2 separate regions of the Homo sapiens genome follow, and region 1 is linked to region 2. The links come from fine-mapping of genetic effects on gene expression. A gene starts in region 2. The other region holds a variant in brackets. All regions are shown on one strand. Distances are from middle to middle.

Region 1 (5,382 bases), 110 kb before region 2:
AAAGGTAATGTGGTACATATACACCATGGAATACTACTCAGTCATCAAAAGGAACAAATGTCTTTTGCAACAACTTGGATGAAGTTGGAGGCCATTATTCTATGGGAAGTAACTCAGGAATGGAAAACCAAATATCGTATATTGTCACTTATCAGTGGGAGCTAAGTTATGAGGAGGCAAAGGTGTAAGAATGATACGATGGACTTTGGGGAGGTGGTGAGGGCGGGAGGGGTGAGGGATAAAAGACTACATATTGGATACAGTGTACACTGCTGGGGTGATGGGTGCACCACAATTTCAGAAATCACCACTAAACAACTTACCCATGTTACCAAAAGCCACCCGTTCCCCAAAAACTATAGAAATAAAAAATGAAAATAAATCAATCAACAAAATTTTTAAAAAGAACTCAATTCTAAAAAGTTGTTACAAGGATTAAATCCATTTAATAAGTTAGCACACTGCCTGGCATTTTTTAAAAACTCAATAAATGTTTGTAATTCATCACGAACCAATGTGTATCCTAAATTTTAACATACCAGGGTTCAAAATACTTGCAGAAAAGAGAGGTAGGATTCCAGGACACGAGAGGCTGGTCAAGCAAATGACCCAGAAAAAGATGAGGATGCTCTCAAACGTGTCATAATGCCGACTGTGCAACCAGAGAGATCCCAGTGACAGGGAAGAAGCCTGGGTCCAGAAAAACCAGTGTGACTCCCCCAGAGAGATGAGATTTGAAAAGACGATAGTGGGCATCTAGCATACTCATGCGCATGTATGTACATACAAGTACATGTATACACACACATGCACATATGCATAGATGTGTTAAGTGAATAGATTAATTGATTGATGATTTGAATAAAACATGGAAACAAGAAGGAACATGTTCTTAGGGAACCTCAGACATAAGTGACTGGGACTTGAAATGATCTTATCTTTAATGAAAGCCAAGGAAAGAAAAAATATAGTATTAAGGGCAGCTAAAAAGCCCCCCAACCCACCCTTTTTTTTTTTTTTTTGAGACAGGGTCTAACTCTGTTGCCCAGGCTGGAGTCCAGTGACATGAACTCGGCTCACTGCAGCCTCCGCCTCCCGGGCGACTCTCCTGCCTCAGCCTCCCAAGTATCTGGAATTACAGCCGCATCCACCATGCCCAGCTAATTTTTGTAGTTTTGGTAGAGATGGTGTTTCGCCATGTTGGCCAGGCTGGTCTTGAACTTCTGACCTTAGGTGATCTGCCTGCCTCGGCCTCCCAAAGTGGTGGGATTACAGGCATGAGCCACTGTGCCCAGGCTAAAAAGCCATTTATTATTTATTTATTTATTTATTTTTATTTTACTTTAAGTTCTGGGATACATGTGCAGAACGTGCAGGTTTGTTACATAGGTATACATGTGCCATGGTGGTTTGCTGCACCTATCAATCCGTCATCTAGGTTTTAAGCCCTGCATGCATTAGGTATTTGTCCTAACGCTCTCCCTCCCCTTGCCCCCTACCCCACGACAGGCCCCGGTGTGTGATGTTCCCCTCCCTGTGTCCATGTGTTCTCATTGTTCAACTCCCACTTATGAGTGAGAACATCCGGTGTTTGGTTTTCTGTTCCTGTATTAGTTTGCTGAGAATGATGGTAAAAAACCCTTTTTAAAAGTTCAATTCAGAGCAAAACAAACAGACTGAGAAAGGAACTATAGTTTGGTGCAGGAAGCAATGACATCACGTTGGGGAAGGAGAAGAGGAGAAGGGATTGTTCTGTCTGCCCTGCAAGGAGAGGTCCCGGGGAAGGAAGAGAGACCTGTTGACCCACGGGAGCCTGAGATGGATGACAAAGACTGTCAGGAAGAACATGTCTGCTCCAGCAGAATCCTCATCTCCACACTCCCGTGAAATTGGCACCATGGAACCGGGAGAGCTTGGGAAAGCAGTGCTGAAACCTGCTGCTGTGATATCTGAGGAACTGTGGAGAAAGGGAAAGCTAATTGTCATGGACAATCGATCCTGAGACTGACTTCAGCATGGGTCTTACTTTTTCACAAAAGTTGAGGCAAGCCTAGAAGGGGGAACAGCAATCCCCAGAGCCCAGCGCGGGCTCCCTTGGAACCAGCCCTGAAGGCTGGGGACCGAGACCTGCATTAGACATCAGGTGTCTGCATCTCAGCAGGGCATTTTGATTTCCACGGAGATAAAAAAGAGAAATGTGAAACTGAAGCAAGGCAAAGAAGTGGATCAGTGGCTGGTTAACCAGCCATACCCAAAGGGTACAGAAACAAGTGCTGAGGTCACAAGGAAGGGAGGGACTCTCACCCTGGGATGTGGCAGGGCACATGTCCCGAGGCTGCCTCGTGGACTGCTTTTTATCAGTGACAGGGACAAAAACCCAACAGGCATGAATGGAACAAGCGCAGGTGGCCAGTGCTGGGGAAGTGGGGTGTGCGTGAGGGCCCCTGAATGAAGGAATCCCTCACAGCACCCTGACCCACCAGGCCAAGGGGAAAATGAGTGATGCAATTAAACAAACAGTTGTTGACCTTTTCCACATCTGGTCTGTAGTCGAAACAGCAGCCAACTAGCAATTCCTGTCTCCTTCCACGACCTAGGGT[C/G]GTTGCTGGAAGCAGTTTCCCAACCGCAGATATTTTCCAGGCTTATCTGATTTAGCTGGGGCCACGTGACTGACTTTCAGCCGGTGGAATTTGGACAAAATGAAGGCTGCTACTTCTTAGAAGAGTCTCTTGCTCCATTCTCATGGTGCTCTCTTTTCCTGACAGCTGGATCTCAATGTCCTGGGTGACCCAGGAAACTGTATACTGAAAATGATGAGGCTTCCACTGGCCTGGTCCCTAAATAAAAGCTGCTTGTGCCCAACACCGATTGAGCTCCGGATGAGAGAGAGAAAAGTAAACTGTGGTGTCTTGATACTGAGATGTTAGGGTGTATTTATAAGAGCGGTCAGTGTTGTCCTAACTGATATGGGATACACAATCCCAGAGTGGCAATGCAGGACTGGGGAGAGGGCAGGGCTTCACCAGGCCTCTGAGAAAGGACTTGAGGGATTGGACAGTGATGAGTAACTCAGTGGGAACCAGAGAATCCGTGGTCCCCAGACAGGCAAAAATGGCCTCGGAAGGATGAGTTTCCAAAAGGAGAGGGAGCCCCTCTGAGCCTACACAGATGATGCATCGTTGGTCAACCCAGCAGGTCCTGTGCACTAAGTGCATTGGTTCAGATGGGCACAGAATAAGAAAAGCAGACAAGGCTCAAGACTCGAAGCTATACCACATTTTGTCCCTTGGCCTTGGGAGAATCCAGTTCGACTTACAGGACCCCAAGGAATCCTGGGACCATGCACATTTCAGGGCAATATTAAAAAGAGAGAGAGCATTTACTGAGTGCCTGCTATGTGCTCTGCTGTTGTTTAGAAGGAAGATAATCATCATTTAATTCTCACAATAGTCATCTAAGGTAAGTACTATTATTCCCCGGTATACACATAAGGGATCAGACTTGGCTGGGGATCCAGCAGTTTATGTGTACAGAGCTGAGACTCAGACCATGCCTGACTGAGCCCAAAACCCATGAGCTTCACTAGGATCCCCCCATCTGAAAGGCTTTCTAAGATCAGAGCTCCTCAGGCTCTGAATGGGCCCCCTCAAGAGACAGCAGGAAGCCCCCTACCCCGGACTTATACAAATAGAAGCTGGCGGAGCCCCACAGCATTCCTCAACCCCGCGTGGGGCAGAGTTAGATCGTAAGACCCTCCCAACCTTGAAACCTCTGCCTAAGAGCATACAGGAAGTTTAGATTAAATCAGCCAAAATGACTTCATAGCATATATTTCTTAATATCTGGTTCTCAGGGTCAAACATAAAACTTTATCCTGGAAAAAAAAAAAAAAAAACACCAAGGATTATCCATGAACCATCTTTCTTAAATGTGAGCCATCAGCAGCCTGACCCACACATGCTGATCTCTGTTCCCGAGCTCCTTCAAGGACGCCGAGGTCTGCAGAGTGGTGGAGCTAAGGGGTTGGGCAATGGAGGATCCCACCCCGTCCTCAATCATCAGAAGCTGCAAGGTGCTTTTCTAAAAAGAAAAAGGAAAAAAGGACTATTTTTCTTCAGTGCTAGAGAAAGCAGACAGATTTTTATTTCTGTAGAGTAAGAAAACTCTCTTCCCTCACCGAGGTCACTTATAACAATAGAGGATCCCCTGAGATGAAGGAAAGAATCAGGTTTTCTTTTTATTCTAGAAGGTGATAACTACCAAGAAATCTCCACTTCACTTAAGTCCTTTTATTCTTCTGATAAGCTCAAGAGTTTGCCATCATTGTGCCCAGCCACTGCTGTCTTCAGCAAAGCACAGTGGAGGAGATTTCAGTTTCCAGAGGGGACAGACACAGCCCCTGTCAGTGAGAACCCCCTGACCCAACAACACTCCAAACAAATTACTGGGTTGTCTAAAAAGTAGAAGGAACCAACCACTGCTGGAATACTCTGCTTTCTTCACGCCACAAAGCAGAAATTTCTGCTTAAAGGGAGATTCATTTGAAAGAAACCTCAAGCATATTTTTTTCATGTCTTGGGAGGTTGCTGTTTCATAAAATGCATGCATGTCATACGACTCCGCAGAAATTCATTCAACACACTGGGTCCATCAGTACTTACTGCTGTGTATGAATATCATGAAGAATGTATATCATTCCTGTATCATGAGCTACTCTAGGCCCTGGGCTACCTAACTGGACAAAACAGACACCATTCCTGCCCTCATAGAACCTGCATTCTAGTGGGGAGATGGAGAACGTGTCAGTACAATGGAAATAAAAGAATACCAAATAGTTAAATACATAAGGGTGATGTCATGATTCGGGACAGACAGAATAAGGGCACAACCAAGATGAGCTTTGACATTGGATGGGTGGTCAGGGAAAAGTAAAGACAAGTGGACCTTAACAAAGAAAATATAGGCTAGTTACCATGGCTCATGCCTGTAATCCCAGTAGTTTGGGAGGCCAAGGCAGAAGGATCATTTGAGGCCAGGAGTTTCAGTACAGCCTGGACAACATAGCAAGACCCCATCTCTATTAAAAAAAAAAACCCAGCAAGTATAGGAAGTGCAAAGGCCCCAAGGCAGGACCACACTGGAGCATTCTGAGGAGTGACAGAAAGAGCAGGAGAGTAGTGGGTGCCACAGAGCCACAGGCCCTGGAGTCCAAGAGGCAGGCAGGCCCAGTGAGACCGGAGAAGTTCGCAAATCACATGGGGAGCCACTAGGGCCTCTAAGCATTCATCCCTCTGCTCTGGGAGGCGGGCTTGAGGAGCCACTAAAATGGACCTGTTTGAGAACAGAAGCCCAGCAGTCTATTTCCCAGCAGCTTCCCTGCCT
Region 2 (5,382 bases):
ATTTAATTGGTTATGGATCTCTGTTCTCTTAGCACTACTGGATATCACAGAAAAACACATTAGTACAGAGCAATTAGTGCAATGGCAGTAAACAACTAAGGCACTATTAAGCTGTGGGTGATTAAATAGTATTACTTTATATTTTTTACGGTGCTAGACTAAAAGATGGAGATTTAAGATATATATATTTCCATTAATATTAATATAAAATATAAATAACAGGTGTCTTCCACTTCTTCTTAAGGTGCAATTTATACCCAGCACTTCAACCTATAGAGAACTACTTTTCTTATTGAAAAAAAAACTCTTTCTTTATACACTCCAGGGCAATATTTCTTATCTTCATGCACCCGGATATTTAAGCAGAAATATTATTTAATTGGAGTTACGGACTCAGGCGAAATAATGCCCATACCTATATCACCATTAAAAAATAATAATAATAAAGCTTCCATCCCATTGAAATACGCTCTATCGTTTCTATCTTTGCAAAGAGCGAATCGGGCATTATGTGGTGAATTGACTGCAGGCCCGGAAAACAGGCGGGCGGCGGGTGGGCTGCGGCCCTGGGGCTGGGGCCGGGCCGCGTGCACCTTGCTGAGGCCCACCTTGGCCCCGGCTCCCACTGCAGCTCAGGCCGCTCCTCCTCCGTGTGTGTAGATCATCCTGGAATTCTGGCACATCTTTCCTCGGCATCTGATTAAGTTAACAATGTGCTGCTATTTGCATGCAGATTTGCCGGGGCTTTCTCTCCAGCTGCTCCCAGAGACTTGGTCTTTCTCTGCGTTGTGATAGCACAGCAGTCCCTAAATGCAATCTTTGTCAGACCCAGGTGTGCTCTCATTGAGGACGCCTTCGTTCCAAGCAATTTTTCTTTCTGTAGCATTTATAAGGCTCTATTATAGTATAGCCACATCTGGAGGAAAATTCTCCTATTAATTATATACTTTTACCACTAGGAAGACACATTCTAAAAGATACCAACATTTTTGTTGTTGTTGTTCTTATTTCTTTGACAGGCTGCATTTTATTTTATTTTGTTTTGTTTTTCCAGGCATTTCAATATTTAAAGAGCCATTAACCAAGGGGTGGGGGGTGTGAATTTCTAGGAAAAAAAAAAGAACAACAGAACTAAAATCTCAGTGTCAGCCCTGCCTTACCTCACAGGGACAAGTCAGGGGAAAGGTGCCAACTGAGAACTCTCAGAAGACCTCCAGGCTGGACAAGGGATTCAGGATGAGGGCCTGGCCAGTGGGGAAGAGTTCCGTTCTACTGGAGTTTAAAAAAAGGTCGGGGGGAAGAAAAGCACAAGTGCTATTAACTTTTAACCTAGTCTTCTCCCAGGTGGACATTCAAGCATGTCACCAAATCGCCAGACAATTTGATTTCTCTAACGTCAAAAAGCAGAACCCAATTGGATCAGCATGGTGATCCCGATGCGGAGTTTTCTTTGTGTGGTATGGTAATTTTTCAATTAGGTTGGAGACAGATTAAAAGCAAAATTTGGAGCTCAGAATTCATGCTCATCTTTCAGAAAGAGACAAGAATCTTTGCCCAGGGAGTCTGAAAGTTACTTTAGAAGCAGGTGGGTTGTTTTGTTTGGTTGGTTGGTGTTTTTGCTTTGTTTTCAAATCTTTTGGTACAGTCAGATTAGATGGGGGGGGCGGGTGATGGAGAGAATTAATGTAGGAATTATAGGAAAAGTTTTAACCATCGGATGGTCCCTTTCTAAATTATAATAAATTTAAAGGGCTATAATTTTTTATTCAAAAATTATTTTGCAAAAGGGTGTGTACTTCGTGAACAAGAATCCATGCATGAGTATGTGCGTGTCTGCATGTGGGTGGGTGCATGTGTGGGTGTTCTATGCTGGGGAGACTGCACGCACACACACTTGCACACACTCACACACTCACACACAAAGAAAGCTGAATTACCTTGAGAACAGGGAAAATGGAAATGGAACCATTTTCACTTTTCAAGACAAACTTCATCAGGTAAAAATCCAAGCAAGGTTTTGGTCACTTGAGTCCAGATCCTATGATGACAACGTGGAAACTCTCTTCTCCAGACTCACCTCCCCTGTTCCAAAGCTGGCCTCAGCAAAATCCCAGGGCCGTGTCCCGGCAGTACCAGGGGCGGCTCCCAGCAGGCCACGTGTGAGCAGCAAAATCACACAAGAGAGGCCTTTCTGAGTCCTGCCTCTGAAGGCTGGAGTCACTGCTCCCAGCTACTAACTGCCTCTGCTCACTGGTGCTAACCCCTTTCCCTCAAAATGACCAATTGTTTTCACTCTCTCTGTACAGAGGCCAGAAAGGCCCTGCAATTAGGGCCCATCTTTGGACCATGCCTCAGCCTCAGTTTTGTCAGCTCTGAAATGGGAAGAGCCAATCCCATCCTAAGTACATGCATGAAAGACTGTCAACCCAGTTCTAAATAGAAATGATAAATAAGGGTAAATTTTACTCTGATTCTTTTTTCTTAGGTCTCATTTCCTCCAAGCCTTGGTGCTGAAATTAACTGCCCTTCTTTTACCTTACGAAAACAAGCAGCGGATTCTAGTTTCATGACACTTAAGGAAGAATCTATGCAAAAAGGTGGCAGATATTAAATGCATAGATTCTTCAATGTATATATATTCTCTCTTTATATATATACACACACACATATATATGCATATATATATATATATTCTCTATATATGCATTTAAACATATAATGCAAAAAGAAATAATTTATTTTCTAATTTGACTCTTTTGGGGCCGCTGCCTTTTCCATCTCCTGCTGGCTGGCAATGCCCCCTCCTTTCCCCTACAGATATCCAGATACCCTCCTGCAAAAATACAGCAGGGAGGCAGATGCAGTGATACTAGATTACATCACTGGATAGCATGTGGCATTGAGGGGAGAGAAAAAAAAAACAAAAAAAAAAAAACAAGAAAAGACAAATGACATTTTGCTGCTATGGTGTGCTATTTTAGTGGTGATGGCTTGACTTTTGGCCCAAACGCATATGCCAATGGCAAGGCTAACTCCAGGGACTCACAAAAAAGAATGTGTGTTCACAGCTGTACTGTACACCAATACAGATTACATGTTTTCAGTGTTGCGGCCACAACAGAATGCTAATTAACATACTGGAGTGATGAGAGCGGCTGCAAAGGCCTTATTGTTCCATTATTTCATGAAGCCCAGCTGCCTTTGTTTATGTCACTTATCCTCTCGTGCCACAGGTTTTTACTCCAAAAATACTATCCCAATACAGCGTTAATATTTAAAAAACAAAGAGGTGGCAGATTGTCATTTTTGTGTCAGTCTCAAACTGCAGAACTGTTAAGCTGTTCTGGTTCGGTATTTAGAAATAATTTAACAGCCATATTCAGACACTGCCTGCATTCTAACATAATGGCTGAATACTTGAACCAAGCAAATGCATAACTATCCTGACATCACTTATGAGATTTAGATTGGTCAGTTAATGGAAGTCTTTACCACAATCAATACCATAACAGCTTCTTGAAATGAACGTGATTTTTTACACGGAGTGCTGCAAACAATAACTACAGAAACATACTACCTTTGTACCCAGCACAAAGAAGCTAAAATGCAAAATTAAGAAGCAATTACGTTTTTGCAAACTAATATTACAGTTGATTATTAAAAACAAACACTTCCAAAAATACGTACTTATCATTTAATAATTGGAGGGCATTAATATCCCCCGTACCTGATTAATCATTTTTTTACACTTTTTAATAGCTGTTTCACCTACTGGCTACATTATCAGCTTGCTGTTAAGTATTGATATTGATGATTGATGTAATAATGATTAAATAAAAAGCCATATTTAGAGCTTGATTTTTATAACATTCTTTGTCATAATCTTCATTCAAGAGAACACTGTCTGCTGTTTAAATTAGTTTTTTTCCCCTCTGTTTTGCCTGGATTGTGCATAAAAGTGACATTCTATAAAATACAGGTTTCCTCAAATAGTGTTCCGCCAGCAATCCATACATTCTACAGTAATTTGCAATCATGGTCAGGGGAGGTTGTTGGCTCAAGTTCAAAATGTTTATGGCGCATTGGTTCCCCAAAGAACAAAAACACCCTGGGGTTTTAGTTCAAATTTCCCTAAATGCACCTTTATTGACATCAGGTACAATAGTTGGGGAAATACGTAATACCCCAGCACAGACGCCATTCAACCAGAGTCATAAATTAAGTTAGAAAAGGTCTCCCCTAAAAAGTATAGCACTCCACTAATCAAAGCCACGCTGTCGCCATTGCTACAGAACACAGAAATCTTCCCAACAGCCAATTGAGTGAACAAGCCATAGTTGCTTTTTAACGAGTTTAACTGGTAATCTCAGATAAATGGAGAACTGTTTGAAGTGTCTGCCTTCTCTAAGGCAGTAATGAGAGGATTTACAGCATTCTGCATCCCAAACTGCGTATAACCAAGAGAATGCCACAGGTGTGTCACCATCCACGTTAGAGTGCTTTCTCAGCGATGGCCATCCCCCCACTGTGGACACAACATATATTTTTTTTAATTGGATCCAGGAGCTAGCTAAATTATCCAACTGCTCTGTGCTTAAACCCCCAGCTAGCTTATGTACCAATAATAATAAACTTTCCATAATAACAGCCCAGCCTATTACTGTTTTTTTTTCTCTTAATCTAAAAGTGGAAACACTTTATTCTGATTGCAGCCACTGAAGAAACTCCTGAGTTGGTTTCCTTCTAAAAAAAAATTGCTCAAGAATTACAGAACAGACCCAGGTTAACAATATTCAATTATGCACACATGTATTTTCAGAGGAGAACCTGCTTATCTTATGGTACAGGGAGAAAATAATGTCATAATTCATCCCTTTGCAATTTGTGGAAGAATTTTGTCTTTTCCTTTACAATTTTTATTTGCCAGGTCAAAGCAACAGCCAGTCAAAAACCACACCCCGGGACAGTGACAGCAACATCTAGACTGCACAATCGCAGACGGGTCGGACTCAATTGACACAGCTTCAGTGTGATCCTCCACATTTAATGCATTCATGTTTCATTTGCAAAAAGAAAATCCGAGCCCTGTGCTACCATTCTGGTTTTCAGAAAAGTGTTACATTTATAAATAAGAGATCAAAATCCTTGAGTGGGCAGAAATAGTATCATCAAACCAAATACATGTTTCCACCATTTGGACATATTTTTAACAATCTTAATCCCACTTAAACTTTGCGAAAACTCTATTGAAAATTTAACCTTGTGCTCTTGAAGCTGAAACTGATAAAACTTAATAGCAACAAGGCAGTGAAACACTAATAAACTCATTATAGATCACATAAATGGGATGTCTGCGTGGCTGCCAGACAGTGCACATAAGCA

The links.
Region 1: its variant is fine-mapped to the expression of ZNF536 in lung (TOPMed, PIP 0.97).

The regions. Positions count from the first base shown.
Region 1 is chr19:30,476,669-30,482,050 of GRCh38, reverse strand. All of the region lies in intron 2 of ZNF536 (zinc finger protein 536), which reads right to left. Among named protein-coding and RNA genes, the nearest start is that of ZNF536, 110 kb to the right of the region's middle. The variant C/G (reference allele first, on the strand shown) is at 2,601.
Region 2 is chr19:30,369,112-30,374,493 of GRCh38, reverse strand. ZNF536 (zinc finger protein 536) reads right to left here and starts at 2,110. Exons shown (of 5, transcript NM_014717.3): 1 at 1,938-2,110. RefSeq lists an enhancer at 565-1,066.